3 linked regions of the Homo sapiens genome follow. The main gene of each other region encodes a partner of the protein of the gene in region 3 in a complex. Each region holds a gene or a part of one and is shown on either strand. Other genes may lie near its edges. The genes, in order: CDC45, MCM5 and GINS4.

What was found.
Region 1: GINS4 (region 3) and CDC45 share a complex: the UniProt entries of both Homo sapiens proteins name them as parts of the CMG helicase complex.
Region 2: GINS4 (region 3) and MCM5 share a complex: the UniProt entries of both Homo sapiens proteins name them as parts of the CMG helicase complex.

Annotation. Positions count from the first base shown.
Region 1 is NC_000022.11:19,508,111-19,518,648, reverse strand, and holds part of CDC45 (cell division control protein 45 homolog), read right to left. Parts: intron 10,120-10,538; coding exon 9,958-10,119; intron 3,901-9,957; coding exon 3,762-3,900; intron 3,685-3,761; coding exon 3,601-3,684; intron 2,123-3,600; coding exon 2,004-2,122; intron 1,836-2,003; coding exon of another isoform or gene 1,833-1,835; coding exon 1,756-1,832; intron 1-1,755. UniProt on the Homo sapiens protein: Required for initiation of chromosomal DNA replication. Core component of CDC45-MCM-GINS (CMG) helicase, the molecular machine that unwinds template DNA during replication, and around which the replisome is built.
Region 2 is NC_000022.11:35,413,602-35,424,139, reverse strand, and holds part of MCM5 (DNA replication licensing factor MCM5), read right to left. Parts: intron 10,266-10,538; coding exon 10,154-10,265; intron 8,312-10,153; coding exon 8,168-8,311; intron 7,802-8,167; coding exon 7,736-7,801; intron 7,503-7,735; coding exon 7,326-7,502; intron 6,397-7,325; coding exon 6,284-6,396; intron 4,257-6,283; coding exon 4,128-4,256; intron 2,823-4,127; coding exon 2,680-2,822; intron 927-2,679; coding exon 799-926; intron 1-798. UniProt on the Homo sapiens protein: Acts as a component of the MCM2-7 complex (MCM complex) which is the replicative helicase essential for 'once per cell cycle' DNA replication initiation and elongation in eukaryotic cells.
Region 3 is NC_000008.11:41,529,920-41,540,457, forward strand, and holds part of GINS4 (DNA replication complex GINS protein SLD5), read left to right. Parts: intron 1-264; 5' UTR 265-283; coding exon 284-379; intron 380-4,385; exon of another isoform or gene 4,386-4,491; intron 4,492-6,440; coding exon 6,441-6,527; intron 6,528-7,151; exon of another isoform or gene 7,152-7,260; coding exon 7,261-7,374; exon of another isoform or gene 7,375-7,391; intron 7,392-9,758; coding exon 9,759-9,856; intron 9,857-9,996; coding exon 9,997-10,085; intron 10,086-10,538. UniProt on the Homo sapiens protein: Required for correct functioning of the GINS complex, a complex that plays an essential role in the initiation of DNA replication, and progression of DNA replication forks.

The sequences.
Region 1 (10,538 bases), on a different chromosome or scaffold from region 3:
AGAGGTCAGGGTTGGGGCCTGCAGGGAGAACTCCCCCCCGGGAAGACAATAGAGGTGACACAGGGAAGGGCCCTACAGACCTGGACAAACACGGGCCTGCCCACCCCAGCTGGCATGAACCCCCGTCCCCAGAGTGGGTTGTGGAAGTCCTTGGGTGGGGCAGGTCACTTTTGGCCGCACTCTGGCCAATTCCTCGGCTTCAGTGTTCTCTTCCGCACAAGGGGACATGGTGCAAACTGCCCATATCTCACAGGGCCCTCAGGCTCAGCTGAGCACCCAGACCCTCACCACAAAGCAAAACCAGGCCCCAGGATGGGGCTGGCCTGGCCCTGGGAGCCATCTATGCTGCCAGCCACAGCCCCGAGAGCCCCAGACCCAGCCCACGCAGGTGGGCACTAGACATGGCCCACTCTGCACCCTCACCCCTGGCTCTCCACCCTCAGGGAAACCAAGCAGTTCCCAGCCCGAGTCCTCCCTGTATACTGAAGGCCAGATATTCTGCAGGCCAGTGGGTGTCCATCCACCTCTCCCACATCACAGGCACAAAAGAGTTAGCAGGGGCTGCTGTGCGGGGTGAACCAATGCCACACAGTGCCACAGCCATGGCTGGGTCTGGCTCAAGGAAGGCAGCTCTGAGATGGCTGACGCCACTTCAACAAAGGCTGGATCTCCCATGACAGTGTCTATCATTGTTGAGGAATCCGTGGTGATGAGGCAAGAAAATATCCTTTCTCAGAGGTGCAGGAAGTACTGAGGGTGTTATGAGCTGAACGGTCTCCCCCACATCTCTATGTTGAAGCCCTTACCCCCAGGACCTTAGAATGTGACTATGGTAATTAAGTTCAAATGTGGTTGTTAGGGTGGGCTCTAATCCAATCTGTCTGGTGTCCTTGGAAGATGAAACGGTTTGGACACAGACACCAAGGAGGTATGCAGAGGAAAGACCACGTGAGGACACAGTGAGAAGGTGGTCATCTGTGTGAGCCAAGGAGAGAGGCCTGAGGAGAAGCCAGCCCTGCCCCACCTTGACCTGGGCCTTCTCGCCTCTAGGACTGGGAGGAGACACGTGGTTGAAGCCACCCTGTCTGTGGCACTTTGTTATGGCAGCTTTAGCAAACTAACCCGGGGTGAAATATCAATACGTCTGTTTTACTTTAAAACCTGTCAACAATAATAAGAACGCCAACACAGCCGAATGTGAACCATGTTCCGTGCTGGTGCTGGGGAAGCAGTGGGCAGGCAGGCCTATCCATTCTGGGCTCATCTGACACACAGGTGGGGCCGGTGTCCCAGCCATCTCACAGGTAGCACCTATCACGACACACACCCCGGCCTGTGGAGAGGTGGCTGGCGCAGCAAGGGTTGGTGTCCTGGGTCATCACGGGCCCTGCTGTTCCCTCACCCCATGAAACAGAAACAACCCAACCCTGACAGGTGAGATCGGGGCACACGGGCCCTGGTGGCCAGTCCCCTAGGCTTGCTGGGAAAGTGATCCTTAGCACTGGCTGTAAGGCCGCTGTAAGGCCACAGCCAGGCCAGTCATTCCCTGGAAAACACTTTTTCCCTCTCAGGGGCCTGAGGTTCACCAGAGCTCCCTGAGCCACCAGGAGTAGCCTGTCCCAGGGCCAGATCTGGAAGGTCAAGAGGGCTGCTGGCCAGGCTCCTCCAGCCATGCCAACTTGCTTGGTTCCAGGGCCTGCAATAGCCTCAAAGGGTCAGGTGGGAAAGTGTGGCAGAGTGGCAGGAGACTCTCACCTGAGAGGTCAAAATGGTTGTGCAGCATCCGGGAGCTGGTGCTTTCCGCTGCCTTCTCAAACGCCCTCCCAAAAAAGCTGCTGACACACAAGACATGTCGGGGGCCAGGCGGCCTGCAATGGACCCTTCCCACCCCCCGCCCCAGGACAGACACTAGAGGCAAATACCACTCTACTCAGCAGGGCTAATAAGCTGATAACCCCAACACCCCCGACCCTCCAGTCCCAGGACGAGTGGAAGCTGCTCACTTCTTCCTGTCCGAGCTGTCGGTCTCTGGGGGGATGCCCACCACGGTCACTGTGCCATGCTCCATGCTCAGGGGGGCAGCCATCACCAGGGGCAGCAGTTTGCAGCGCCGGTTCTTTGTCTATGGAGTCGGAGAGCACCCTCCGTCAGGGTATGGTGGGCCCCAGCTCAACACTCAGAGCCCAGAGCCCAACAGCGCCCAGTCACTCCACTCCCCAAAGCCTCCAGGGACGCTGTCACCAGGAGACGCCTTGGTCCCCACCCAGCCACCCCAAGTTAGATGCCCAAGGCCAGTGTCTAACTCCCAGTCCAGGGAGCTCTCCAAACACCTGCCCTCCCGTACCCACAGCATGGTACTGTGGCTGTGATGCTGTGTCCCCGAGCCTCCTTGTCTACCAGCCTAGCCCCACTGCCCCTTGGCTGTTTGTTGCAAGGAGCCTGCCCTGCTATCCTCTCCCTCACCTCCTTCAGGTCCTGCAGCAGCTGCCACCTTCTCCAGGAGGCCCCAGCCCACCCCGCCTCATCCTGCTCCATCCCCTGGCAGCACATCCCCTCATCTTAACCGCAGCTGCCACTCCTCGTCCCCCCCGCCGGCACGCTCCTTCAGGATAAAGGTTTAGGGTTTCCTTCTCTGCTGTGCCTGCTGCACCCACACCCTACAGCCCAGGTGACCAGTATTCCTGGTGTGTCTAGGACTGAGGGGTGTCCCAGGATGTGCACCAGGATGGGCAGTCACTCCACAACAGGGCCGGGCAGGTGGTGGATGTTCAATACATGTCTGGTAAATGAATGGATCCTGTAAAGTGGGTATGTGTTCACCCATTTCACGGATGAGGAAACTGAGGATCAGGTCAGATCATCTACCTCACGTCACACAACTGGCAAATGAGGAGGCTCATCTTTGAACACAGCCTAGAGGACGTCAAGGCCCATGCTCTGTCCCTAGTTTATCTTTGACATTACCTGGTTGATAGAACACATGTCATCTGTCATCATTTTACTGGTTAGTTCAGCGGCAAAAGAAAAGTTCAACTTCCTGTTAGCACATTTTGTTTGAAATAGCCCCCGGCATAAACTCTCATCCTCGAAGCAGAGGAGGACTTCAATTATTGACATGTCACATCTGGGAGGAGCCCCATGTCGGCTAGGTGAGGACCCCTGCCCTAAAGCCAGCCAAGTTAGGAGTGTGTTCCACGCCAACGCAAAGAGGGGGTTAGGCCACACAGAAGACAAAGCCAGGCACAGGAAATCAGCTTAGTGGACAAGCTGTTGCTGGGAAGCCAGTCGGTGCTACAACCATCCCGCTTTCCCTGACCTGCAACAATAGGACACAAGCCCCAGCCCTGTTCACTCTGCAAGGGCCCCTCCCTACTTGTCTGAGTGACTTAGACAGCCAGTGATGAATCAGAGCTTGAGAGAACTGGAAGGTTCCTAGGGGTCAGCTGAGAAAAAGACAGCTCAGAAAAAGTAATGGATGTGCCTAGACCTTGCAGCTGGTCAACAGCCACAGGCACCCCAAGGCCAGCATCTAACTCCCCATCCAGGGAGCTCTCCAAGCACCTGCCCTCCTGTACCCACAGCACCCGCCTGGCCCCTCACCGAACACACAAAGGACTTGAGCAGGTGTTTGCTGAGCAGGCTTAGGGATGCCGGCCTAGAGAACAGCATGACATCTGGAGTGCCCTGCGGAGGCGAGACAGATGGTCAGACGAAGCCACTGGTGCTGTGACCAGGCGCCTGTGCTCTGTGGGAAGCCTGACCTCCATGAGAGAGCAGTACAGGAAAGGCCCCTGGGAGATGACGAGGTTGGTGCAAAGGCAGCTGGCAATGGTCTGCTGGGTGGCTCGCAGCTGCTTCTTGGCGAGTTCCAGGCCATGGTACAGCTTGTCCAGGTTACTCCTGTAACAGGGCAGACACATGGCTTTGGTGGTGCTTGTCAGGAACTCTTGGTAAAATACCAAAGTCACAAATAGTTTGCTTGGTTCCTGGTTCAGGAAGAGGTTTGGGGGTAAGAATTTATCTTCTTTCCCTCCTGAGTTGTCTTTCACATGAAAGGAAAGAATTTTTTAAAATGTATAAACCCACAGTAATGCAAATGAGAGGTGGAGCGGGTGCAAGTATCAGAAGACAGGAAACTAAAAGCCAACAAAGGGAAGATCCTGAAGGCCCAGGAGGACTCTGACACAGGGGAGGCTTGGGCAAGGGCTGGAGGTTGGACAAGGGATCCCCTCAAACCCAACAGATAGATTTTTACTCTTCCCCACAAAAAGGGAGGCTCCCCTCTGAGTATATGAAATGTACCATCTGTGAATAAGTAGAATCCTCAAGCAAAGCCTCTGGGCCCTACAGTGGGGAGTCCCAAAGTGTCACAGTTGGCTCCTGCCTGCTAAGGTGAAACGATGTCTTATGACCAGTGAGCTGTGCCCAGATACCCATGGCCCAGCCAAGGGTCCACAATCCCGTTCTTGAATATGAAAGACATCAGACCATTTGAGAAATGCCTATGGCCTAAAAAAATAACCCTGAAGAAACAGATAATTTGGAGAACTAAAGAAAGTTAAACTGAACTCTAATTAGTATCTTCAGAGAGATGTGTGCAACTCTTACATTCCTAAACCAAGAACAGGATGCTATGAAAAAGGAAGAGTTAAAAACTAGGAAATGTTGATGGAAATTAAAACAGTTGCAAAAGATAAAACATCCACTCCAAGTCTGGAGTCAAGAAAAACTTCCTCAACATAGATAACAAGACAAAGCTATGGAAAATGTAAGGCAAAAAAATAAGACAGAGCATCGTCATTCCAGGAAGCCTGAAAAGCAAGAATAAAAAACACGGATGTTTTCTGTGGGGGGAATAGTAAAGAAATAGTAAAATAAAGATATTGTCAGATATATAAGAACTCAGAAAGTTTATCTCACATGCGCCCTTTCTTTGAATGTTACTTAAGAACTGTGCTCTAATTTAATGAGGGAGTAAATGAAACAAAGATGAAGATCCCAAGAAACATTGGACTAAACTAAGAGGCACAGCCAAGATTTGGACATCCATGGGGACAGTGGAAAGCAGGTCTAGAGAGCTGTAGGTCCAGGCTGTGGTGGGAAGACAGAACCCCAGACTCTCCAGCAAAAAGGGGCTCACAGAAAAACAGCTGGAAGGAGTTTGGAGGAGAAAAAAATGGATGTGATAAAGGAGGCAATTAAAAACAGCAGGAAAAACAAAGAGCCGTGCCAGATAGTAATCTATTACTACACATGATTGTCTCTGGAATAGTTTATTAGCACAATAAAGTAAAACTATTTGTTTACTTTCAACTTTTAAAATCAACCTGTAACCAAAGATAAGACAATTTATATCTTTTTCTCTAACCCAAGATTGTTATCAGTCTTGAAAACGTAAAAGCACAAATTTCAGAAAGTACTGAGCAGCACTGAAGAGCAAAGTAAGGCTGTTTCTACACCTTGGACATTTGTCCCCTCAAAACCTCATGTTGAAATCTGATCCAAGATCTTCGAGGTGGGGTCTAGTGGGAAGTGTTGGGTCATGGGTGCAGACCCCTCATGAATAGATGAATGCTCTCCCTGGGGCTAGGGGGTGTAAGTGAGTTCTTACTCTATTAGTTCCCGTGACGGTTGTTAAAAAGAGCCTAGTACCTTCCTCCTCTCTCTTCCTTCCTCCATTGCCACATGGTCTCTGCACCCACCAGCTCCCCTTCTGCCATGAGTGGAAGCAGCCTGAGGCCCTCACCAGATGCAGATGCCCAATCTTGAGCATTCCAGCCATCAGAATTATGAGGCAAATAAACCTTTTCTCTTTATAAATTACTCAGCCTCAGGTATTCCTTTATAGCAACACAAAATGGACTAAGAGTGTTTTAAATATCCTTTTCTTACAAAGTAGGGAGACGAGATACTAGTGATGAAAGAAGACATAAATATGTTAAAGTTACAAAGAAGTTAAAAATAGTGGCAAAACTGTACCAACAGGAGGGAAGGTGGACAAGAGTGGGATAAATGCTCCTTTGTCATAGCAGGAAGTTGGTAGACAATGTCTAAAGCCTACCCATCAATGCTGGGATGATGGCAGCAACAGTGGTAAAATAGTTTTTGGATTTTCCCAAATTTCTAGATAAAAGTAGAGCAACTAGATTGCAAAACCAAAAACCTAGGACCCACATTTGCAACAAATTAAGAGAACAAGGGAACACTTCAAACCCCAAAGTGTAAGCAGGTAAAAAGAGACCATGAACAGCCAGACAGGTATACTATCTACATCAGTGCGAGAGAAAGCCAAGAGGTAGTGAGACCTAAGAAGACTTAAAACTCCAGGCAACTGGAGAGCAGCGGCCCAAACTGAGAGTTTTGCCCTATGCAAGAGCAGGTGAGTGCAGTGGGCCAAGGGAAAGTTTAAGGAGCCTCCCTGGAGTGCAAGGAGTCCTGGTAATGAGCAAGGGGTCCTGTTAAACAGCAAGGGAGCCTGGTAAAGTATAAGGGGGCATGGTAAAGAGCAAGGGGCCTTGCTGAAGTGTAAGGAGACTATAGTAAAGAGTAAGGGGCCCAGCCTGACCAACATGTCTCTACAAAAAATACAAAAATTAGCCAGGTGCAGTGGCACATGCCTGTAGTCCCAGCTACCTGGGAGGCAGAGGTTGCAGTGAGTGGAAATCATGCCACTGCATGCCAGCTTAAGTGACAGAGTAAGACCCTGTCTCAAAAAAAAAAAAAAAAAAAACCTCCAGTGAATCATACTCCTAATGTAAGGGCTAAAACTATTAAAGTGTTAGTAGAAAAAATAATGTGAAATCTTCATGACCTTGGGTTAGGCAATGGTTTCTTAGATATGACACCAAAAGCACAAGAAACAAAAGAAAAAGTAGGTAACTTAAATGTCATCAAAATTAACAAATCTTATACTTCACAGGACACTGCCAAAGTGAAAAGTCAGCCTACAGAATGGGAGAAAATACTTGCAAATTACTTATCTGATAAGGGATTTGTATGTAGAATATATAAAAGTTTTAGGCTGGGCACGGTGGTTCATACCTATAATCCCAGTGCTTTGGGAGGCCAAGGCTGGAAGACTGCTTGAGCCCAGGAGTTTGAGACCAGCCTGAGCAACATGGTAAGATCTCATCTCTACTAAAAATTTAAAAATTAGCAGGTGTGGTAGCTCATGCCTGTAATCCCACCTATTCAGGAGGCTGAGGTGGGAGGATGGCTTGAGCCAAGGAGTTTGAGGCTGCAGTGAGCCATGACTGCACCACTGCACTCCAGCTTGAGCAACAGAGTGACACCCTGTCTCAAAAAAAAAAAAAAAAAAAGACAAAGGACTTGAATAGACAATTCTCCTAACAAGATACACAAATGACCAATAAGCACATGAGAAGATGCTCAACACTATTAGTCATCAGTAAAATGCAAATCAAAACCATAACGAGATACCACTTCATACTCACTAGGATGAATGTAATCCAAAAGATGGACAATAACAAGTGTCGGTGAGGATGTGAAGAAATTGAAACCCTCCCTCCTGGTGGGAATGTAAAATGGTGCAGCTGCTGTGGAAAAGTCTGGCAGTTCCTCAAAAATCTGGCAGTTCCTTGAAACCTAGTGTTACCATGTCACCCAGCATTTCCACATGTAGGTATATAACCAAAAGAAACAAAGACATGACTACACAAAAACTTGTACATGCAAGTTCACAGCAGCATTAGTCATAATTGTCAATAGGTGGAAACAAACCACATGCCCATCAACTTATGAATGGATAAATGAAATAGAATATATCCATCCAATGGAATATTATTTATAATAAAAAGACACTGGCCGGGCATGGTGGCTGATGCCTGTAATCCCAGCACTTTGGGAGGCCGAGGCAGGTGGATCAAGAGGTCAGGAGTTCAAGACCAGCCTGAACAACACGGTGAAACCCCGTCTCTATTAAAACTACAAAAATTAGCCAGGCTTGGTGGCATGCGTTTGTAATCCCAGCTACTCGGTAGGCTGAGGCAGGAGAATTGCTTGAACCCAGGAGGCGAAGGTTGCAGTGAGCCGAGAGCGTGCCACTGGACTACAGCCTGAGCGAGAGTGAGACTCTGTCTCAGGTGGCGGACGAGGGAAAAGACATATAATCCCGATACATCCTACAATATAGATGAGCCTTGCAAATATGATGCTAAGTGAAGAACCCGGTCACAAAGAACCATATCTTATATGATCCCATTTGTATGAAATGCTCAGAACAGCCAATTCATAAAGACAAAAGGGAGACTGGTGGTTGCCAGAGGCTGGGAGGATCTCTCTGGGGCAACAAAAATGCTCTAAAATTAGATAGTGGTGATTGCTGCACAACCTTGCAAAACCTAACTGCAACCTACTAAAAGTCATTGCAGGCTGGGCACAGTGGCTCATGCCTGTTCCTCCCAGCACTTTGGGAGGCTGAGGTGAAAGGATTGCTTGAGCCTAGGAATTTGAGACCAGTCTGGGCCACATAGTGATACATCTTTACAAAAATTTTTAAAATTAGCAAGGCGTGGTGGCATGCACCTGTTGTCCCAGCTACTCAAGAGGCTGAGGTAGGAAGATTGCTTGAGACTGGGAGGTCAAGGCTGCTGTGAGCTATGATCATGCCATTGCATTCCACCCTGGGCAACAGAGCGAGACCCTGTCTCTAAAAAAATAACAATAAAATAAATAAAAGCCATCACATTGTACATTTTAAATGGGTGAATTGTATGGCATGCAAATTGTATCTCAATAAAGCAGTGGAAAAAAAAGTGTGCTTGGGAGCAGAACCAGGAAATCCCAGAAAGCAGGCCCCCATATATACATATGCATCTTTACCACTGCACAAAAGCAACAGAAGTGGCAGCTCTGTGAAGCCAGAAAAGCTGTCTGAATCATGCCTCCTCCTCCTAAAAAGTCAGGGAAATGAAATTTATACATAAAAAGCATGAGAGAAGTAGCAAAGTCAAATCCCCTCAAAGTCACTATTAGAAAAAAAGAGAATAAGGGACAGAATAACACCTCTCTGGATAATGAAAGTACACTAATGTGAAAGTTGCAGATCCCAGGATGAAATCACTTTTTGACAGGCCCAAACAAATTAAAGCTGGGAAAGCACCAAGGAGAGCTCCTGCTTGCATGTCTGGAATAAAGACTCAAAGACTTTCTAAATAACCCCACAAGAAATCCCTTCTTTAGGACTGCAACAATTCAGATAAGATGCTCTTAAAATATAACACTTGCCCAGTAATGCATCTTCACCACTGAACTGACGCCAACTCTGGCTCTGAGTCTCTGAAACCAATGAATTGTTTCCAAGCTAGCTTTCGTGAACTTCTCCTTTTGCCAATAAAAGTGTCCCCTTAGCCTCCTCTCTTTGGATGCATATTTGGCTTGCCATAGCTGTGCATCGCAGACACTATAATCCTCTTTTCTAATTCCCAAATAAATTCAGTGTATTTGGAGATATTTTTCTCTGATGTCTTTAGTCTGACACTAGACAGACATGCTAAAAAAAAGATCCAAATTGTCACATTCCATTTCAAAACAAGCGAAAAGACATGGAAAAATATAGGACATCTCAGGAAGTGAGATAAGAAAGAATTGGAAAATTAAAAAATTGAGAAATGACAACTATAAGATTAAACACAAGAACGAATATACATAACAAATAATGCCTTTTGTTAAGAGATACAAAAGGTAAAAAAAGAGAAAATTTTAAAAATCAAAAAGAAAAAAAAGCCAAAAAAGATTCAAGAGAAAGTGACAAATACTGAAGAGGGGCAGGTAATGTGTCAGGTGCACACCACACTGGCACTGTGATTCCAGTTCACCCAAGCAGTTTCTGCAGGACACAGTCACTCCCACAGCCCTGGGGTCCCCGTAACTGACCTCCCTGGGCAGTGTGAGAACCAGTGGTGGCCCCATGAGGCAAACCCACAGCCCTCCTGCTACCTGGAGAGGCTGTCCAGAGCCTGGATGAAGTGATCTGTCCCTGAGCCATCCTTCTCGGGGCTCTCCATCAAAGACATGGTGGCAAAGACCACGTCGCTGGCCAGAAACTTGTGCTTGAACCCAAAATGAATGCTGAAAGTCTGCACGCGCATGTCCTTCATCCTGTCATGGGAGCAAACACAGCTGTCACCCTCAAATTGTGGGCAAGCTCTCACTGCCAGGCAGGCCAACAGATGTGCTAATGTCCCTCACAGGCCCAAGTCAATGCTTCCAGCACAGCCATGCTGCTCAGAGGATGAGGCAGGTCAGAACGTCCAGACATACCAGCCCTGCAGCCCAGAGTGGCCGGGTGCCTTCTTGTCAACAGCTTTATGGCTGGCTTAGGGGGTGTGTGGGGTCCTCTCTCACACCTTAGCATGCCAGCTGGCTGGGGTGGGAGAAGCCAGGGGCCTCCAGGAGTGCCCATGGACTTGGTCGGGCAGAGTTCACCTGAACCTGGCCCTGTGGCCCATTTGCTGTCTCCAGTGAAACAGACTGGGGTCGACCTCACAGGTCCCACAGCAGCCCTAGGATCCAAGGAT
Region 2 (10,538 bases), on a different chromosome or scaffold from region 3:
GGCTGGCTAACGGCACGTGCTGCCCGAGGGGACTCCGACAGAGCCCAGACATCCCCAGGCTCACGGGGAACTTTGTACTCAGGCTCCTTTGACCTAAAGGGCCCACACTTCCTGAGTGCCCACTGTGTACCAGACACTGAGGCACACGGAGGCTAAGCCACTTGCTCAAGGTCACAGCAATTAAGAGGTAGAGCTGGGACTTAAGTCCCATCTGACTCTAGAACCGAAGCTCTAAACCTTTCTCTAAGCCTCAGTCTGCGCACCTATAGAATAGACACGATACCACCCATTAAACTGCCCTGAATCAAAATGAGATGATGTACAAGGAGCGGAGACCAGAAACTAGGATTAATCCTGAGATTTTAAAGGTGACAGGTTTTCCAGAGCATCTGGGAAATCCCATCTTCTCTCTATGGGGCCAACAGTACCCTCCTCAGTGAGCCAGAAAGCTCACTCTCATGGCTCTGCCCCTTCCCACTCCATGAAACGCCCGCCAACGGGGAAAGGCACAGACGGGAAGGGCTGCGGGGAACTTGTATGGGGTTTCACCAGAATCCAACCACCTCTGCTCTCCCCTCCCCTTCGTGGGACAGAAAAAATACCCCCATCCCTGCTCCTGATGAAGATGTCCCTAGGGAAGGAATGATGGCTAGAAAAGGTCTGAGAAAGGGACAGTTGTCCATCCTACCCCCGTTCAGGGCCTGTCTGCTGAGTAAGATGCCAGTGCTGAGTGGGTGGGAACCAGCAGAAGACCTGCACCCCGTGCCGGCTCACACCCCCACTCCAAGGCAGGCTCACCTGCTTGGTGAAGTCCTTGATGATGCTGTGCTCAGACACCTGGGAGCCAATGGCAAAGCGGCGCTTGAGCTGCTTCTCGATGCGGCTCAGCATCTCCTGGTCCTCCTGGCTGGTGAAGCCCTCCACCCCTGTGGGCATGGAGAAGTGAGGCAGCCGGGGAGCTGGGACAATGGGAGTTCTTGGACAGAGACAGCCTCTAGCCCAAGGAAGAACAGCCTGAGCCAGGCCCCGAAGAGTAAGTCAGAAAAGGGCACCGAGTGTGCCAGGGTGGTGCAGGCCTGATTGAGGAGACAGGATATGGCACATGTGGGGACACTCCAGGCCAAGCACAAAGTCACAGAGGCAGGAACACACCTGTCTCATTCAAAAAGCAGCCCGGGGCCCAGCGCAGCAGAGACATGGCCAGAGTGTCACTAGGGACCAAGTCCTGCGGGCCCTTGGAGGCCACAGCAGGACTCCTTTTGTTGCTGGAGCAGATAGATTAGAGAGAGAGTTGGAAGGGGCCCATCAGTGACCCAGGAGGGAAGCCAGCCTGCCCTGGACACATCTACGAGGTGCCCTGAGGAGCCCTCGGCAACCAGGAGGCTCGTGACTTCCAATTACTGCCACAGAGGCCTTGGTGTTTCAGCTAAGGAGATGGTGGGCTCATGGTCAAGAAGTCATTGAGAGGGGAGTCTGTGAGGCAAACTCCTACATAGCCCATAAGACCCAACTCAAATTATCACCACTCCATATCACCCCTGCCCTCTGTGCCTGCAGCATCCCAGAGGCCTCCACCTGCAATGTCTCATGTGACAGCAAGTGTCTCCAGGGTAGAGGCTGAGTCTTCACCAAGGGGGACAGGAGGAACAGGCCCCACCCACCCCATTCCTCACCCAAGTGCCTCCCCATTCAAATGCACCAAACCTGCTCCCTCCTGGGGAAACTGACACTTAGCGCTGCCTCCACCTGAGCAGCTCTTCCCCCAAGGAGCCACACTGTCCCCTTCATGCAGCTCCCTGCTTGGCATCACCTCCTTGCAGAGGCCATGCCCACTCACTCCATGGGAAAGAGCACGTCCTCCTTTTCCAACACACCTGGCCCTGCCATCATCTCCCTCACTGCCTTTTTCACTACCTACACTACCTGCATTTGTTTCTCTACTGTCTATCTCTCCCCAACTAGAACGAGAATGAGAACCCAGGAGGGCCGGGACCCTGTGATTGATTGCTCTTATACTCCCAGCACCTAGAACAGTGCCTGGCAAACAGTAACACTAATGAAGTATCTGCTGGGTGAAGGAACAGATTTTCCCCAGCGTAGGTAGCCTGGCTCATGATCGGTGCCTGGGACAGTCTGTTGAAAGGCTGACCGAAACCAGACAGTATGGCTTATGGTGTGGAAAACGCTGGCCTAGGGGCCAGGAGACTTGCATTCCAGCCAAGCGACTGTGATCTTGGGCACCAGGGAAAGGCCCCTTCGAGTGTCAGCTGTCTCATTTCTAACATGGGCAGGACTGACTGCTCACCTGGCTTCCAGGGGGCAGCTGTAAGGCAAAATGCAAGAAATAACTCTGGAAGCACTGAAAATGCTGACAAGCTCTAGGAAGCAGAGCATCAACTGTTGTTCCTAGCCAGTGAGAAGGGTTATCATCAATGACCTGGGTCAAGAGGATTGTGTTCAAGGGTCTGGAGAGAAGCTGCTTCTTCCCATCTTGGAGGAAACAGCGGTGGGGAGAAAGGAGGAGAGGGGTCTTATGGCAAAAAGAAACTCAGAGAAGCTCAGCAAACTCAGAGAAGCAAGACACACACTGCAGGCCCCCAGCAGGCCAGAGCCCTGCCCACAGAGCTCCGAGCCAGGGAACCCAGATCAATTGAGACCATGGCCCCTGCATCTGCTCACCTGACAGGGTACCGGACAAGGCAGCATCCAACGTGGACACTTGGAAGAGCCGCAGGGCCTCCTCCACATCTGCCTCTGTGGCGAAGGGCTGCAGCTTCATCTTGCTGAGGGCTTCCGCGATGCGCACAATGGCCTCCAGCTGCCTGTGGGGGCAACAGCGTGCTCAGGGTAGCCTCGGTCCGCTATTCCCTTCCTCCCCAGCCAGCCCGTTACCAGGGAGGTGCTTGCCCAAAGTGGTAAGACTGTGGTGGAGACTGCTAGGTGTCCCCATAATCCATCTCCCTTTTGATCTTAGTCATAGAACTGCAATTTTTTTTTTTTTTTTTTTTTTTTGAGACAAAGTCTCGCTCTGTGGACCAGGCTGGAATGTAGTGGCATGATCATAGCTCACTGCAGCCTCGAACTCCTGGGCTCCAGTGATCCTTCCACCTCAGCCACCTGAGGAGCTGGGTCTACAGGCATGCACCACAATGCCTGGCTAATTTTTTATTTTTTGTAGAAATGGGAGTCTTGCTATGTTGCCCAGGCTGGTCTCAAACTCCTGGCCTCAAGTAATCCTCCTGCCTCAGCCTCCCAAAGTGCTAGGATCACAATGTAGGCCACTGCACCTAGCTTGGAACCCCAGTTTTTAGTCTGGCACACAGCGATCCACTAAAACACATCCCAGACATCTTTTGTACCAGGTTGTATTTGTGTGACCAATCTATGGCAGTAAGTTGTAAGTCCAAGCATTGTGTGGGACTTCATGAAGTGTCCTTTAAAAGGGAAGCTCTCTTTCCTTCCTGTCCTGCTGCCTGGAGGTGATGGCTGAAGTTCTAGCGGCCATCTCGGACTAAGAGTAAGGGGGAGCTTGAGGAGTCCTCACACCAGTCCCCATACCATCTTCCTCCAGACAGTGCTACAGAAAAGAGAAATGAACTTCCTATTTCTTTAAGCTACTTTATCTGGATTTACCATTACTTATAGCCAAATCCATTTCCAACCAGTCAGTGCTGGAGACAGGATTCAAACCAGGTAAATCCCAACTCTTACCCACTGTATTGTCTACAAAGTCACAAGAATGAACAGAGTTAGGAGCTAAAAGCACTGAGGGCCAGAGAAGGAATGTAATTTCCCTACAGTCACACAGTGGGCTAGAGGCTGGGACCCAAGACTCTTGACTCCCAGGCCTGGGTCCTTCCCTCCCTTCGGGCTTCCTACAATGGGAGAAGCCAGGCCAAATTCAGACAAGAGGGGTCTAGGTTTGCCCGGCCTTAAATCAAGAAACATGGATCATCATTGAGATCAAGGAGGCCATAGTTTATGCTCCAAAGGGACTCTTCCTGCCCAGAGCTACTATGGGCCTGTGCCAAGTGAAAAGCCTGGACCACTGCCCCTGGTTGCCAAGCACACCCTGCTGTGTAAAGCAAGCCCCATCTGCCATGGCCCAGCCCTGCCCGCCTGCTCACCGCACAGTGATGGGGATGCTGGAGCGGCGGTCACTGTCCCTCTCGTGCTGACGGGCCCCGCTCCGCATGATGATGTAGCGGTTCTTCAGTTTCTCTGCAGCCTCTGCTGACAGCCGGGGGCCACACTTCCTGCAGGACAGTGGGGAGAGGCTGGTGTGAGGCCAGGAGGGACTCTTAGGGCACCTACCCTTTCCCCCAGCCCCCTGCCAGCTTACAGACATGCACTTTCCCACCACACCACAGCTGCCCACTCATATGGGCTGGGGGACAACAATCGGAAAAGATTTAAGTGAAATCTGGCTGTGGGCAGCTGCCACAAACATCAACACTGGGGAGAAATATGGGTGCCTCTCTTAAAAAACAGGTGAAGAAAAGCCAGGCACGTCTGCAGGGTGAAAACCGCCTCTTCCCCACTGTTAGACGCTGTGTGGTGTCTTGCCACAAGGTCCCCCATACATGTAATGAACAATGGCACAATCACAGCGGCATGGAGGCCCACTGGGTGGTGGGCTTTGCAGCAGTCTCAAACTCCTCCACCCAACACATCTGAAGACACGACAAGCTGATGACACCCACAGGAGGCTTGGCGGTGACTGCAGTCCAGGGGCTGGGAGCACCTCAGACTCTCCTGGGACGGTAGGTGTGGGGAAGTCTGATCAGCATCTACCCTATCCCATCCCCTCCCCTCTAGCCCCCAGGCCAACTGACAGTCACTGATGTAGGGAAAGCCTTAGCTCAACCATCCTAAGGATGTGGAGACTGAGACCCAGAGGGAGGGAGGGAACTCCCCAAGGCTACCTGGGGACTTAGTGCAGAGGGAAGATTAGAATCCAGGGCTCCCTGACTCACAGCTGTGGGCCCAAGCCTCTCAAGACTGGGCCACACAGAGCTCAGACTTGGATGAAGACCCAGGGACTACCCACTCACCCTGGCAGAGGTGCTGAATCAGGGACCCACCAGCCCCCCACTGGTAGTGCATTCAAAGAGCCCTCAACCCCTGGGTTTTAGCTCCTTCAAAAGATCACCAAAGCGCTGTACGACAAGAATCGAAGCACTGTGGTTAAGAGCACAGCCTCTGGAGGCAAGCAGCTGGGTTCACATCCTGGCTCCACTACCTCTGGCATGTGACCTTGGGCAAGTTACTTAACTTCCTTTGCCTCAGCTTCCCCATCCATAAAGGGAAGGGAATAATAGCACACCTTACCTGGTAGGTTTTGGGGGAGGGTTATAATTTATTCATATAGAAAATACTGAATAGTAATTCAGAATGCCTGGCACAAAGAAAGTAGTGTGTAAGAGTGAGTGTGTGTGTGTGTGTGTGTGTGTACACATATATATATATTTTTTTTTTTTGAGACAGAGTCTCACTCTGTTGCCCAGGCTGAAGTGCAATGGCACGATCTCAGCTCACTGCAATCTCTGCCTCCTGGGTTCAAGCAATTCTCCTGCCTCAGCCTCCTGAGTAGCTGGGACTATAGGTGTGCACCACCACACCCGGCTAATTTTTGTATTTTTAGTAGACATGGGGTTTCGCCACGTTGGCCAGGCTGGTCTCGCACTCCTGACCTCAAGTGATCCACCTGCCTCCGCCTCCCAAAGTGCTGGGATTACAGCGTGAGCCACTGCAACCAGCCAGTACTATGTATATAATTATTATTATTGAAAATCTGTGAGAACAATCAAATTGCAGCTGCGACTCACTGAGTATTTACCCAGGGCAGGGCTATGCCAAGCACTTACTCATCATCTTGTGCAATCCTTACAAAAATCCTAGCAAACATCGATAGGCCTGGGGAAATCAAGGCTCAGAGAGGCCAACCAACTTGCCCAAAGTCATAGAGTGAAGGCAGGTATGACCCAGAGCCCATGTCTACCATGTCTACACTTCACTGCCTCCCTGCATGTCAGACTCGAGGAGGTCTTCAAGACCATCTAAATCCCACCTCCTTGGTGTGGAGGTGGGAAAACTGAAGCCAAGAGCCAGTGAGCTACGCAAGGTTAGAAGGGAGCAGAGCAGATTCAGTAGAGCTGAGAACCTCAGAACAGCAACATCTGGGCTGTTCTTCATGAGGAGGAGCAGGACCAGGGGACTGGGTTCTCTCCCACCCAGGGAAGCTGGGCAACCTCACCCCCGTGGGCCTGCGTCCAGGACTCACACTCGGCAGTAGGCAATAAACTTCTTCAGCTTGGCCAGGTCAATCTCGCCCTCCACAGCCTGTGTCTGTGTCAGTGCGCTCACGTGCAGAGTGATGACATGCTTGGCCAGCATCTGGAGAGCAGAGGGGATAATGGGTCATCCCACAGGCCGTCCCAAGCCTGAGTCCCAGCACTGAGGTGGAACAGCCAGAAAGAGCTGATGGGGCCCTGGCATCAAGGAGCCGGAAAGGGTGCTGAGATCTCAGGCGTGCTCAGCCTGTTTGCTCAGCACCAGGCCCTCGTTCTGATGGGAGCATCTGGATTCTCCTTTAGAGAGAACTTAATGCTCCTTGCTCCTCTGCCCTGGTCCATAAAGGGGTGGGTTCAGCTTGTCCACCCCGACTTGGGGCATGTATCTTGTCCACCCCAACTTGGGCATGGACATAGGATCTACCCAAGCCAATAGGAGTCTATCCTGGGACTTTTGATAGAAGTACTGGAAAAGACGGGGCCTCCTCTTTCCTGGGGGCTGTTAAGCTACAAGCTAACAGGACAAAATCTTATTTTGTCTTTGCCACCACAAGAGGAACAGCTGCCCAAGTACAAAGATTCCACCAAGGGAAGCAGAACAGAAAGGCAGAGACAGTTGTTTGAGAATCCAGATCTACCTGGGCCTTAAGCCGCCGGACTTACCAATTCTATAAACCACTATGTTTTTTTCTTTGAAAAATTTACTAACCAGAACTGAGGTTCTATTACTCATAACCCAATGTCAACTCCTCTGTTTCATATATAAGGGACTGAGGCCCAGGGAGAAACTGATTTAGCCCAAATCACACAGCTTATCACTCACGGCAGAGGCAGAGCAGGCCACAGGACTCCAGACCCTGCTTCAATCCTCTGCAGTCCACAACAACCGCCCTCTCACGTGCTCCCCAATTTCACAGCCTGACAGTCAGGACTTTGCCAGCCAAGGCCCTTGTTCTCCATTCTCCTTCCCACACAATCACAAGCCTGCCTGGAGGCAGGTCCCATGGCCACCAGCCCTGCCCCTGGACGTACCACATCCCTCTCCTCATTGTGCTCATCCTTGACGATGAAGATCATGTCGAAGCGCGACAAGATGGTGGGCATGAAGTCAATGTTGTCCTCCCCCTTCGTCTCATCCCAGCGGCCGAACACTGAGTTGGCAGCAGCCAGGACGGAGCAGCGGGAGTTCAGGGTGGTGGTGATCCCAGCCTAACAGGCGACAGACGACGAAAAGGGGGAGGAGATGGCAAAGATGCCTTCTTATATACACGTTTACACACACACACACACACACACACACACACACACACACACACACACACACACACACACACAGATTCTAGGCCTGGGCAAAGAGAACTTGGTCCCAATCAGGGCAGCCTGAGGACGGTTGGGCCACGCTGGGCTGCTGCAGGCTGGGCTCTCCATGGAGGGCCACTCACCTTGGCGATAGAGATGGTCTGCTGCTCCATGGCTTCGTGGATTGCCACACGGTCATCTTCTCGCATCTAAGTGGGGAAGAGAGAAATATCATCAGACCTACTGAAGTGAGGGAGCAGGGAGCAGTAGAAACAGGAAAACTAACAGCAGCCCTCACTCCTGAATACCAGCTCCACGCAAGGCCAATGGCAGCAACCAGGTCACCTCTAATCATGGGAACAACTGTGTGGGCTTGCCTTTCTTCTCCCCACTCTTCAGATATGGGAACTGAGGCTTGAAGAGGTTAAGCAGCTTCCCACAGTTACTAGAGTGACCGGCCCAGGGATTGAAAACATGTCTCCCAAGTCAGAGGTGATTTCTGCTGGCTGAGCACAGGAAGTCACATACCCTGGTGCCACCCACCTTTTGGCTACTACCCACCTCATCAGACTCACCTTGTCAAACTCGTCAATACAGACGACCCCACCATCGGCCAGGACCATGGCTCCGCCCTCCATGATGAAATTCCGGGACGAAGGGTCCCTCATCACCGAGGCTGTCAGTCCAGCTGCGCTGCTGCCTTTCCCAGACGTGTATACCTGGGGCAGTGGGGTGGTGTCAGGGCCCAATAACAACTCCATGCTTTGACCCCCATAAGACAAAAAGACCCACTGAGGTTGTGATTTGCCCAAGGTCACACATCAAAGCTGGCTGCAGGGTACAGAATAGGACTCAAGGCTCCAACTCAGTGCGTCTCCCTCTGGAAGGGGATGCTGCCCTGGGCCTCGGTGTGCCCAGATGTTCTCCCCGCTGAGGGCATCACATCCATGGCTCACCTAAGCCTCACCACAGCCCTGTGACACAGTCTTGTGAGGCCCAACTCACAGATGAGCAAACTGAGGCCCAGAGAAGAGGAGTTAGCCTCAGGGCTAGGATGAGGACTCCTGACTCCCAGGGAAAGCCTGCCCCCATCGTGAGTCCCTTGTCGTCTCTATATAGACCTACACGCCACATACTGCCATAGAGCCCCTGAAATTGGGAAAGTCCTAACTGAGATGTCCTTAATCGTGCAAAATACGCACGATTTCAAAGACTCAGAGCTCCTAAGAATGTAAAGTATCTCAATAATCTACATATCAAACAACATGTTGAAATGAGATTTTAGATATAGCGAGTTAAACAGAAGTAACTTCACCTGTTTTTCCTTTTTTCTTTCCCCTTCTTCCTTTTAAATTGAAACGGGGTCTTGCTATGTTGCCCAAGCTGGTCTCAAACTCCTGGGCTCAAGTGATCCTCCCACCTCAGCCTCCCAAGTAGCTGGGACTACAGGTATGCACACAACCGCACCCAGCTACTTTTTAATGTGGCTGTTAGACAATCTGAGAAGACATACATGGGTCGCATGTGCAGTTCACTATTTCTACTGGACAGTGCCAGTGTGGCAAATTTGGCACACTTCCTATCTATCCAAAGACCACCATCTCGCCCTATACAACCCCGCCACTCGGATCATGTCAGACCTTCTCTGGCTCTGATCCCCGCAGACCCATTCAACAACGCAGCAGAGGACCCAGCTCATCAGACACTTGGGTTCAATCACATCCTGCTCTAATGCTTACCAGCAGTGAGACCTGGGCCAAGACACTTACCCATTCTGTACCTGAGTTTTCTCACCCCTAACACAGGGGTAATAGTACCTGCCACACAGTTGAGGTGAAGACTAAGTAAATATATGCAAAGTACTTCAAGCAGTGTCTGGCCCTTCATTTTAGCTATTATTATTATTATTATTATTTATTATTATTATTTGAAACATGGTCTCACTCTGTCACCCAGGCTGGAGTGCAGTGGCACAATCTTGGCTCACTGCAACCTCCCCGTTCTGGGCTTAAGTGATCCTCCCACCTCAGCCTCCCAAGCAGCTGGGACCACAGGTGCATATCACGCCTGGCTAGTTATTTTGTATTTTTGGTAAAGACAGGGTTTCACCATGTTGTCCAGGCTGGTCTCAAACTCCTGAGCTCAAGCAATCCGCCCACCTCGGCCTCCCAAAGCGCTGGTATTACAGGGATGAACCACCATGCCCAGCCAGATTTTAGCTATTAATGATAACAATATCATTATTTAGCAAATGGATAAACTGACGCTCAGGGAGATTGGGTGACTTACTCAAAGCCCACAGCCAATTTCTGGCCAGGGTGAGACCCAAACCCCATCCTGACTCTCAGTACAGTGTACTCGCCCCCTGCCCCAAACCTACATACACCTGTTGGCTCCCTTCTTCCTCCCATCTCCTCGGCCATCCTGACCGCAGCCAAGAGAAAGGAGGAAGAGATTCCGGGTGAGCCAGCCCACCACAGGTGTCCTGAGGACCCAGAGGCCCTGCCCTGCAGCCTTCCTCCCTGCAAGCCAAGGTGGCAAAGGTATCCCAGGCCACTCACCCCAATGGGAGAACACTTCTCCACAAACTTCAGAAGCTGGGACTTGGCTGTCCCAGGGTCCCCTAGCATCAGCAGGTTGATGTCTCCTCGGCGAGTAAGTCCATCAGGGAGCCTGGGGGACGAAGGGTAGATGGACAAGGTGAGAATCCATGAGGGCATCGCATGTGACATCCAGTCACCAGATTGGTGGGCTGGCAGTTGACTCCCCCAACTATCATGGGCCTCAGAGTTGGTAAGAAGGTAGTGGCTGTGGCCTGAGACCCATGTTCCTACCCAGCTCTGTAGTTCCCAAACCATGGTAGGTCTTGCCTAGCAATGAGGACAGAGCTTGCCTCCCAGAAGAGGAGGGTTAAAGGAAATGGCTCTTATGGCTGTGCTCGGGTAC
Region 3 (10,538 bases):
TGATTGTATGGTGTGATGGGTGCTCAGCTCTTGGTGGACAGAAGTAAGGGGGAGGCTTGTTTGAGAAACGGATACCTGACCTAAGCCTTGGAGGAAGAGGCAGACACTGGAAAACTAGAGTCCCTGCGTTCTCTCACCACTTGCTAAAGGGCCTCTACAACCCCAGGAAACCTCAATAAACCTTTCCTTTCTCCAGATAGATGTCTGTTCTTGCAGATAATTAGAAAACGCATTGCAGAGTATTGGTTCTTTCCCTCTCATTAGGTTCCTGGTTTCAGAGAAGATGACCGAAGAAGTGGATTTCCTGGGACAGGACTCTGATGGGGGTAGTGAGGAAGTGGTCCTAACTCCTGCAGAGCTCATTGAAAGATTGGAGCAGGTAAGCATCCCAGATCGAATCCCTTTGCTCCAGTCAGCCTTTTTATTTAGTTCAACTGTGAATATCAGGGATCACAAGATGAGGAAACGGAATTTGGGGCTTACTTTAGAACAGGGACTGGATCTTACCATCTACATGGAAACGGGAAGCAAGAAGGACATCCTCTGTTAGAGACCTCATCATATCAAACACAGCATCCCCAAGTGGGGTCAGTAAGGGACAGCTTTGGGCACATTCAGTGAACAGTTCACAGAGCAAGGATCCACGTGATATTTTCAGGGACTGTAGAGGTCCCTGAACTTCTTTACCTTAGTCCCTTGAACATCTGCTGTTTCCCTGGAGAATGCCTGTTTAGCAAGAAAATGCTGAAATGCCTGTAAGGGAAAACTGGTCATATTTTTCCTTTTTCTCACATGTTTTTTCTTGAGTCGTCTGCTCTCCATATGTCCACTGCTTATCTAAAATCCTTTCTGAAATATTTCTCCTTTAAGTTGTAATAGCTATGACTTACTGCATATTTCCCATGTGCCAGTAACTGTGTTCTTTACACTTATATCTCATGATGCTCTGGTAACAGGAGTTCAGACTATCTGGATTTAAATCTGTCTGTGACACTCCTCTGTTATGTGATCTTGAGCAAGTTAGGGAGTTTGTCTCAAGCCGTTGCTTGCCTATAAAATTGAGACAATAGGGCCGGGCACGGTGGCTCAAGCCTGTAATGCCAGCACTTTGGGAGGCTGAGGTGGGCGGATCACCTGAGGTCCAGGAGTTCGAGACCAGCCTTACCAACATGGTAAAATCCCGTCTCTACTAAAAAACAAAAATTAGCCGGATGTGGTGGCGCATGCCTGTAATCCCAGCTACTCGGGAGGCTAAGGCCGGAGGATCACCTGAACCTGGGAGGCAGAGGTTGTGGTGAGCCAAGATCCTACCCACCATTGCACTCCAGCCTGGGCAACAAGAGTGAAACTCCGTCTCAAAAAAATAATAAAATAAAATTGAGATGATAATAGTGTCTATGTCCTGGAGTTTTTGATTAAATGTGGTAATTGTGTAAAGCACTCAGCATGCTATCTGACACATGATAAGCACTCACTAGATGTGAGCTGTTCATAGTAAGTATCCTTATCCTCTTGCTCTAACTGCCCCTTTCCAGAGCTCTCTCATGTTTGCTACTTTAGTATTCTTCATTCTTCCCTGCCATACATGATATCACGAATGACAAAACGGAACTAAAATGATTTTTAAATTATACCTTACATGATAATCCTTACTATTTAGCAGTGATTCTTAATCTGTTTTTATATCACAGACCTTTTTGAGAAACTGGTAGAAACTGTGGTCTTTCATCCCACAATAACGCACACATGCACCCATGCAGAATTTTGCATATGACTTCCAGGGGATCAGAGATCCCCTGAAATCCACCCACAGACCTAGTTTGTGGAACAGCATTAAGAATTCCTGGTTCGTTAGGAAAGGGTTCATTAAACAAAAATCAAAAGGCACATAGCATAAAGGAAAAAAGGGATACATTCCTGGAGTGCAGTGGTGTGATCTTGGTTCACTTGCAGCCTCCACCTCCCAGGTTCAAGCGATTCTCCTGCATCAGCCTCCTGAGTAGCTGGGCCTACAGGTGTGCACCACCACGCCTGGCTACTTTTTGTATTTTTAGTAGAGATGGGGTTTCACCATATTGGGTTTCGCTGTGTTGGCCAGGCTGGTCTTGAACTCCTGACCTTGTGATCTGCCTGCCTTAGCCTCCCAAAGTGCTGGGATTACAGGCATGAGCCTCTGTGCCCAGCCTGTTTGTACTTCTGGATTAGAGTGAAAAGACAGGCCACCAGGCTGGGAGAAGATATTTGCAAAATACTAATATGTAGCTGACACAAGATGATTATCCACAGTACATAAACAGCTCTTTCATACTGCCCAGTACAGACTGATACCTCAGAGAAGAAGAAAACAGGATGACCAATAAGCATATGAAAAAGATGTTCAACCTTTTTAGTAATCAGGAAAATGAAAATCATGAGATATCATCTCATATCTATCAGATTGGAAGAACTGAAAAACGTGAGCAATATAAAGTATGGCAAGAATGTAGAGCAGCTGAGCGCAGTGGCTCATGCCTGTAGTTCTAGCAACTCAGGAAGCCCAAGTGGGAGGTTCATTTGAACCCAGGAGTTTGAGACCATCCTGAGGATCATAGCGAGATCTTATCCCAAAAAGAGAAAATTAAGAATATAGGGCAGGCCGGGTGCGGTGGCTCACACCTGTAATCCCAGCACTTTGGGAGACCGAGAGGGGCGGATCACCTGAAGTCAGGAGTTCAAGACCATCCTGGCCAACATGGCGAAACCCCGTCTCTACCAAAAATACAAAAATTAGCCAGGCTTGTTGGCATGCCTGTAATCCCAGCTACTCAGGAGGTTGAGGCAGGAGAATCTCTTGAACCCAGGAGGTGGAGATTGCAGAGAGCCGAGATCATGCCACTGCACTCCAGCCTGGGCAACAGAGCAAGACTCCATCTCAAAAAAAAAAAAAAAAAAATGAAGAGCAATTTGCACACTTATATACTGCCGTGGGATATAAATAGGTATAATCGCTTTGGAAAATAATTTGTTATTGTCTAGTAAAGATGAAGGTGCACATACCTGCGGCCCAGTAGTTCCACCCCCAGGTACATACCTAGTGAAAACTTCCGCATGTACTCTAGGAGACATCCACAGTATGTTCACACATTGCTTGCAATAGTTAAAAATTAAAATAACCTAGACAACCGTAAACAAATAGCATTGAGAAAATATACCATACACAGTGGGAATAAAACAGCAGTGAAAATGAGTAAAATAACTCCTGAAACAGCATGAATAACAGGAACTTAATGTAGAACAATAACAACCATAAAATATGAGCTGCCAAAGAAACACTTTATGTAAAGTTCAAACTTGCAAAATTATTGTTCAAGGCAGAGCCGCCACCCTTGGGTGATGTGGCACACTGCTATGCCACAGATGCCTCTGTGTGGACCCCTGCACCTTCCAGGACAGCTGGAGCCCCAGGCTGGTTACTTTTTCAAGTGAGCATCATCGGGGTCCTTGAAAGGCAGCTAGAGGATGGGGCGGCGGGGGTTCTGACAGCACAGCTGCAGCTTGCTGGTGGGTAAGCTGCAGTAACATCTCATGCCTGATGCTCTAGTGCAGTGCCCTGAGTGCAGCCAAGGAAGTGACCCGCCACCTGCACGGCTGCCACAGCCAGATCCTGTCTCTTATGCTGTGTGGCACAGCCAAAGGGACAGCCTGACAGGGCTGCTGATGAGAACAGCTCCAGGAGCATATATAGGATACCCTTTAATGCCTGTAAAAAGTGATTTAAAAGTTGTTACCTGTAGTGCAGATTTGCTCATTTTAGTGATTGTTTTAGTTTGCTAGGGCCACAGAGCGAAGTCCCAAAGACTGGGTGGCTTAAATAGAAATTTATTTTCTTAATTCTAGAGGCTGAGGTCAAAGTGCCAGCATAGTTGTCTTCTTCCGAGTCCTCTGTCTTGGGTTTGTAGGTGACCATATTCTCCCTGTGTCCTTGCATGGTCTTCCCTCTCGTGTGTGTCTGTGTTAAAATTACCCCTTATCAGGGCACCAGTCTTACTGGATTAGGGGCCATCCTAATGACCTCATTTTAACTTAATCACTTCTTTAAAGACCTCCATCTCCAAATACAGTCACGGTCTGAGGTCCTGGAAGTTAGGTAGATTTTTGAGGGGCGGACACACTTCAGCCCGTAGCAATAATGAACAGATTGGCATTTAGAATTTTGATCAGGGGCCAGGCACAGTGGTTCAAGCCTGTAATCCCAACACTTCTGGAGGCTAATGCAGGGGGATGTCATGAGGCCAGGATTTCGAAGACCACTGTAGGCAACATGGTAAAACCCCATCTTTATTAAAAAAAATTTAAAAATTAGCCAGGCTTTGTGGTATGTACCTTTAGTCCCAGCTACTCTGGAGGCTGAGGCAGGAGGATCACTTAAGCCTTGGAGGTCAAGAATGCAGTGAGCCATTATCATGCCACTGTGTGACCAGAAACCAGATGTAGCCATTTCAAGCATAAAACCTGAGTTAAAAAAAAAAAAAAGATTGGATTTAGATACAAGTTTCTCAGTAAAAATTTTGGAAAGATTTATATGAAAGTTTTATACTAATATAAACTTCCACCTAATGTTTTATACTTTATTGTCATAATTTCATAATGTAAATGAAGTGGTCCCCAATACTACCCCAGTGTACCAGACAAGCACTATCATTTTCTTTGAATATCCTGTCATGAACAGGTTGAGAGGTGTTCTACAGAGATATGAACAAATGTAGTGAGACCATAAAGAAAATTCAACATGAAATTCAAGCTAATGATTACCTCTGAGGAGGGAGGGACACACAGGGTCTTTTTTTTTTTTGAGATGGAGTCTTGCTCTGTTGCCCTGGCTGGAGGGCAGTGGTGCAATCTTGGCTCACTGCAACCTCTGCCTCCCAGGTTCAAGCAGTTCTGCCTCAGCCTCCCAAGTAGCTGGGACTACAGGCGTGCCACGCCCGGCTAATTTTTTGTATTTTTAGTGGAGACGGAGTTTCACCATGTTAGCCAGGATGGTTTGATCTCCTGACCTCGTGATCCGCCTGCCTCGGCCTCCCAAAGTGCTGGGATTACAGGCGTGAGCCACTGCACCCGGCTTGTTCTTGTAGTTTTAAAAATTATTCAGTATTTGGCTGGGCTCGGTGGCTCACGCCTCTAACCCCAGCACTTTGAGAGGCCAAGGCAGGTGGATCACTTGAGGTCAGGAGTTCAAGACCAGCCTGACGAATACGGTGAAACCCTGTCTCTAATAAAAATACAAAAATTAGCTGGGCATAGTGGCACATGCCTGTAATTCCAGCTACTCGGAAGGCTGAGGCAGGAGAATCACTTGAACCCGAGAGGCAGAGGCTGCAGTGAGCTGGGATCATGCCTCTGCTTTCCAGCCTGGGCAACAGAGTGAGACTGTGCCTCAAAAATAAATAAAAATTATTCAATATTTAATAAAAATCAATCAAAAAGAAATGCTGCTCCTAATAAGCCCTCCAGAAAATATGATGTTTTCCCATGCATTATGCAGGTTTTTTTTGTTTGTTTGTTTCAGTCTGCAGGACTGTTACAGATGCTCAGGCTCTGCACAAATGCCTATGACTGTAGCCATACCCAGCATTTGGTAATGTGTCTTGACGGTGATCATGGGGAGAAGCAGACACTCAAGGACGTCAGAAAAAAATAAGTTGAGCCTGGTCAGCATATAATTCTGAGCTATGCTAAAACTACATTTCCTGTAATTGAAAGATAAGTGTAGCTTTCCTCAGTCACTTAGGGATATTTCAGTTCTCTAAGCCTTGGAAGTCTCTAAAATGAACCAAACAGCTGGGCCTGAGTCATAAATTAGAGCTTTAACCTCTGGCTCCAAAACTCCATAATAGATGAGCGCCTGTTTCTATTATGATCCTGTATACTTTGGGGCCATTAGTAAATTACTCAATCTGTATTTTTTCAATCAGATGAGGATAACTATATCCATTTTCTCTGAGATATGATGATGATGAATGAAAAATATTTGTGAAGTGCTCTGAGCTTCAGGAATGAAGAGCTGTGTGGATTGGTGGGTTATTGCTTTCTCTCTAAATAGACATGGGGTGGCGCTGCCTGGGGGAACAGTGTGCCCGGGCTGCCTGGCAAAGGCACTATTTGAACACCAGGTGGTGTCACTCTCAGCACCAAGCGTCACACTAACTGAAGTAAGCAAGGGTTTGTATGAGTGTCAGTTGAATAGAAGGTTGTGAACACAGCCTCCCAACTAAAACAAGACACGAGAAAGCAATCGCTAAACGTAGTTTGTCTTCAAAACACCTTCAATGTTTCCAGTTGGTGGGCAGACAGTTTTCTTGCCTGCGCCATCCCTGGTTTTCGTTGGACTTGGGCTGACTCACTGGGTTGTTTAGCTCTGTGGTGGGTGATGCTTGCTTTTTCTGGCATTTGTCTTTTAGGCCTGGATGAATGAAAAGTTTGCCCCTGAGCTGCTGGAGAGCAAGCCTGAGATTGTAGAATGTGTCATGGAACAGCTGGAGCACATGGTAAGAGTCGCTTGTCTTGGGTTGACAAAGGAGGAGAAAGGTAAAAGCATTTGGTCAGCACACTGAGAGCTTGTGGTCTGGTAGCAAATCTGTTTTGTTTGGCTCCACTCACAGTCCAGTTCTTTAAAACAACATTGAATTAGTTATCTATGTTTATCAATCTTGAGAGTGCCTGTAAATATCTGGATATTGGCTTCCCATGAAAAGTCTAAAATCCTGCATTTCTGCATGAGAACAGTTGACCAGAGCAGTCCCATGAGAGCTGTCCATCCATGTACTCCCTGCTCCCCACAGCCCCTGACTACCCACCCTTCTCTTGTAGCCTCCCCACCTGGCCCCTGCAAACATTTGAGTTTGTGGTCCCTGGCCTAGATGATCTGAGCATAAATCATTGTCAACTTCAGAGAAGCTGTAAAATGTGGATATTTCAGTTTCTCAGCTGGTGTTTTAATACTGCTTTTTAGACCCAATGGAAGTTTCGTCTGTGTGCTGTACTATCTCCCTTACAATCAGATTGGAGTTCTTTTGGAAGCCTCTGGCTGAACAGATTCTATTCAAATGGTCATTTTCTAAAAGTAAATGACTATTGTTTGTACTTTATACAATGATAAAATGAAAACTCACATGATATTTTTGTTTTCCTTGGACTGAAACATAGTCTGGGTCCTCAACGTTGCCGGTGATGATGGTTGAACATCATGTTTTTTATAAACCTTAATTTCTCATTTAATAGGAAGAAAATCTCAGGAGAGCCAAAAGGGAGGACCTGAAGGTCAGCATCCACCAAATGGAGATGGAGAGGATCCGCTACGTCCTCAGCAGCTACTTGCGGTGTCGCCTCATGAAGGTTTGACGTGGAGATACCTGGAGGGATTGAGACAGCACAGTCTGTAATGCAGACTGAATGTCCTGGGGAAAACTTGGGCTGGGGCCCAGGAGGGTCCAGGACCTGAAGATGCTGCTAAGAGCCCAATATCCATGTAGCTAAACTGTAAGGAGAGCGAGAGATTGCTCCACAGAAGCACAGAGGAACGTGTGTGGCCCACTGCGGGGACACCGCACACATTTTTAGTCTGTTCACCTGCCGAGTGAGTGGTTCCCCCTTGCGTTACAGCATGGCAGTGCTAAAGGGAGAGTTGTTGGCATTGGTCAATAGTGAATGCTGACTAGAGGAGAACTTGTTTCCAAAATTATTTTGTCTGTCAGATGGCCAACGTCAGTGTCAAATGAACCAGGATGACTTACATTCACCTACAGCTTTGTGGCTATCTAACTTACAAAAATGAAGTTGCAGGCCAGGCGTGGTGGCTCACACCTGTAATCCCAGCACTTTGGGAGGCTAGGCGGGTGGATCACCTGAGGTCAGGAGTTTGAGACCAGCCTGACCAACAAGGTGAAACCCCATTTCTACTAAAAATAAAAAAATTAGCCAGGCGTGGCGGCAGGCGCCTGTAGTCCCAGCTACTCAGGAGGCTGAGACAGGAGAATTGCTTGAACCCAGGAGGTGGAGGTTTCAGTGAGCCAAGATTGTACCACTGCACTCCAGCCTGGGCAACAGAGCGAGACTCCGCCTCAAAAAAAAAAAAAAAAGAAATTGCAAAACATTCCTAGTTTATAACTCTGAGAAATTCTTACTTCCTTGACATTTCATTTGGTTCTATGTGTCTCTTTAGTTATTACAAATAAGATAAATTATCTCTTCTACATGAGAATGCTTCAGCTATCTGAAGACTGCCCACAGTCTCCTCGAAGTCTTCTCTCAGGCATACATTTTAGCCATTCAAACCATTTACTCTCCTGGTCTCTTCTCTAAAAGGGTTCTTGTTTGTCTCTATCCTTCTTAAGTTACACTATCTTAAACTAAACACAGTATCCCAGTTGTAGTTTGACCAAGTTTGTGAAAAACAGAATGATCATTTCTCTTATTCTGGTTATTAAGCTGGTAGTAATGCCAACCACATCACATTAGCATATTTATCACATTAGCATATTGACAGGTACGCTGCCTGAGCTCATTCTTCACTCACGTGGACACTAACCCCTTTTAAGATGATAATTACCCCATCCAGTCACTGTCCTCTACTTGTATGGCTTAGGTTTTGGCTCCTTAAGTGTAGGGCTTGATACTTATCTCTCTTAAGCTTTATCTTATTAAATTGGGCCATTTCCCTTGTCTCTGGATGCTGATCTTGTCACCTAATGTATTAGCTGTCTCTTAATACTTTATGTCATCAACCCCCTTTTTTTATTTGTTTGGTTGTGTTTTTTTGTTTTTTTTGACAGAGTCTCACTCTGTTGCTCAGGCTGGAGTGCAGTGGCGCGATCTCAGCTCACTGCAACCTTCGCCCCCCAGGTTGACGTGATTCTGTTGCCTCAGCCTTCCAAGTAGCTGGGATTACATGCCCCTGCCACCAGGCCCAGCTGATTTTTAGAAGAGACAGGGTTTCACCATGTTGGCCAGGCTGATCTCGAACTCCTGACCTCAGGTGATCCACACCCACCTTGGCCTCCCAAAGTGCGGGGATTACAGGCATGAGCTACTGTGCCTGGCCCACATAAGGTTTTTGATGGCATGCTTACCAAAGCTGGTGATGACCAGTTACAGGCTCACGCCTATAATCCCAGCACTTTGGGAGGCCAAGGCAGGTGGATCACCTGAGGTCAGGAGTTTGAGACCAGCCTGGACAACATGGTGAAATCCTATCTCTACTAAAAATACAAAAATCATCTGGGTGTGGTGGTGGGTGCCTGTAATCCCAGCTACTTGGGAGGCTGAGGCCGGAGAATCACTTGAACCCGAGAGTTGGAGGTTGCAGTGAGCTGAGATCACACCACTGCATTCCAGCCTGGACAACACAATGAGACTCCATCTCAAAAAAAAAAAAAAAAAAAAAAAACCTTATGTGATTATTAATTGGACTGTGGCAAGGGTCTTTCACAAAAGACTTCCCTACAGTTTGACATCTACCCATTGAGTCAGCATTCTTTTTTCAGCCACTTAGGAGTCTCCCAATCCAAGCCGTCCCCTAGCCCCAGGTCCATAGCTTGCCTGCAAGGGTGTCTCAGAGACGTTGTCCTGTGTCTTATGGTGTGTCTCTCCACCCACCCTATCCCACCTCCAGGCCACATGTCCTTCCTCGGGAGGGTTGTGTAAACCCTCTTTATGTTAACCACATCCTTCTCTTTGACTTTTGCCAATGTTTTCATGAAGATTTTGCTTTATCCTCACAGATAGAGAAGTTTTTCCCTCATGTCCTTGAGAAGGAAAAAACACGTCCTGAGGGGGAGCCTTCCAGCCTCTCGCCGGAAGAGTTGGCCTTTGCCAGAGAGTGAGTGAGTGAGCCGTTGGCGTGGGGCACCTGGCTGGTTCAGCATGAGGCCTGTCCTAGAGGCCTGTGCGCTGCTGCCTGCTAACCTTGGACGTCCATCAGCTGTGTACACCACAGCGATTTGAATCCATGTCTTTCAGGTTCATGGCGAACACAGAGTCCTATCTGAAAAATGTCGCCTTGAAGCACATGCCCCCTAACTTACAGAAGGTGGACCTCTTTCGGGCAGGTAAACAGGACGTTCTCCCTGCAGGTGGCCCACCCATCCTCAGGTGTCCCAGGGTAGGATCCTCTCTTCACTGTTTTTACCCAAATACAAAAAAGTAAGTATGTAGATAAACAGAAAGAAGAGCAAGGATTCTAGCTAAAAACCAAAAAAATCACGGAAAGCAGATCCAATGGTAGGCATTTGAGCATTGCTTCCTTGTTCCCTGGGGTGGGCTGAGCCCCATGACTGCACTGGTGCTTGTAGACTCGGGCATGGAGCCGCGTTCGCCTTCAGTAGCCATCTGCTGAGCCTCTGTGAGGTGCTGGCAGCCCCGAGTACCAGCACTGCAGAGCCTACACCAACATTGCCCCTGCTTAGAGGGGCTGGCCATCTCTTCGTCACAGGTCCCAGAATGCACAGGGCTCGCCTAGCTGGAGGGGAGGGCTGAAACAGGAGGCTAGGGAGACCTCCAGT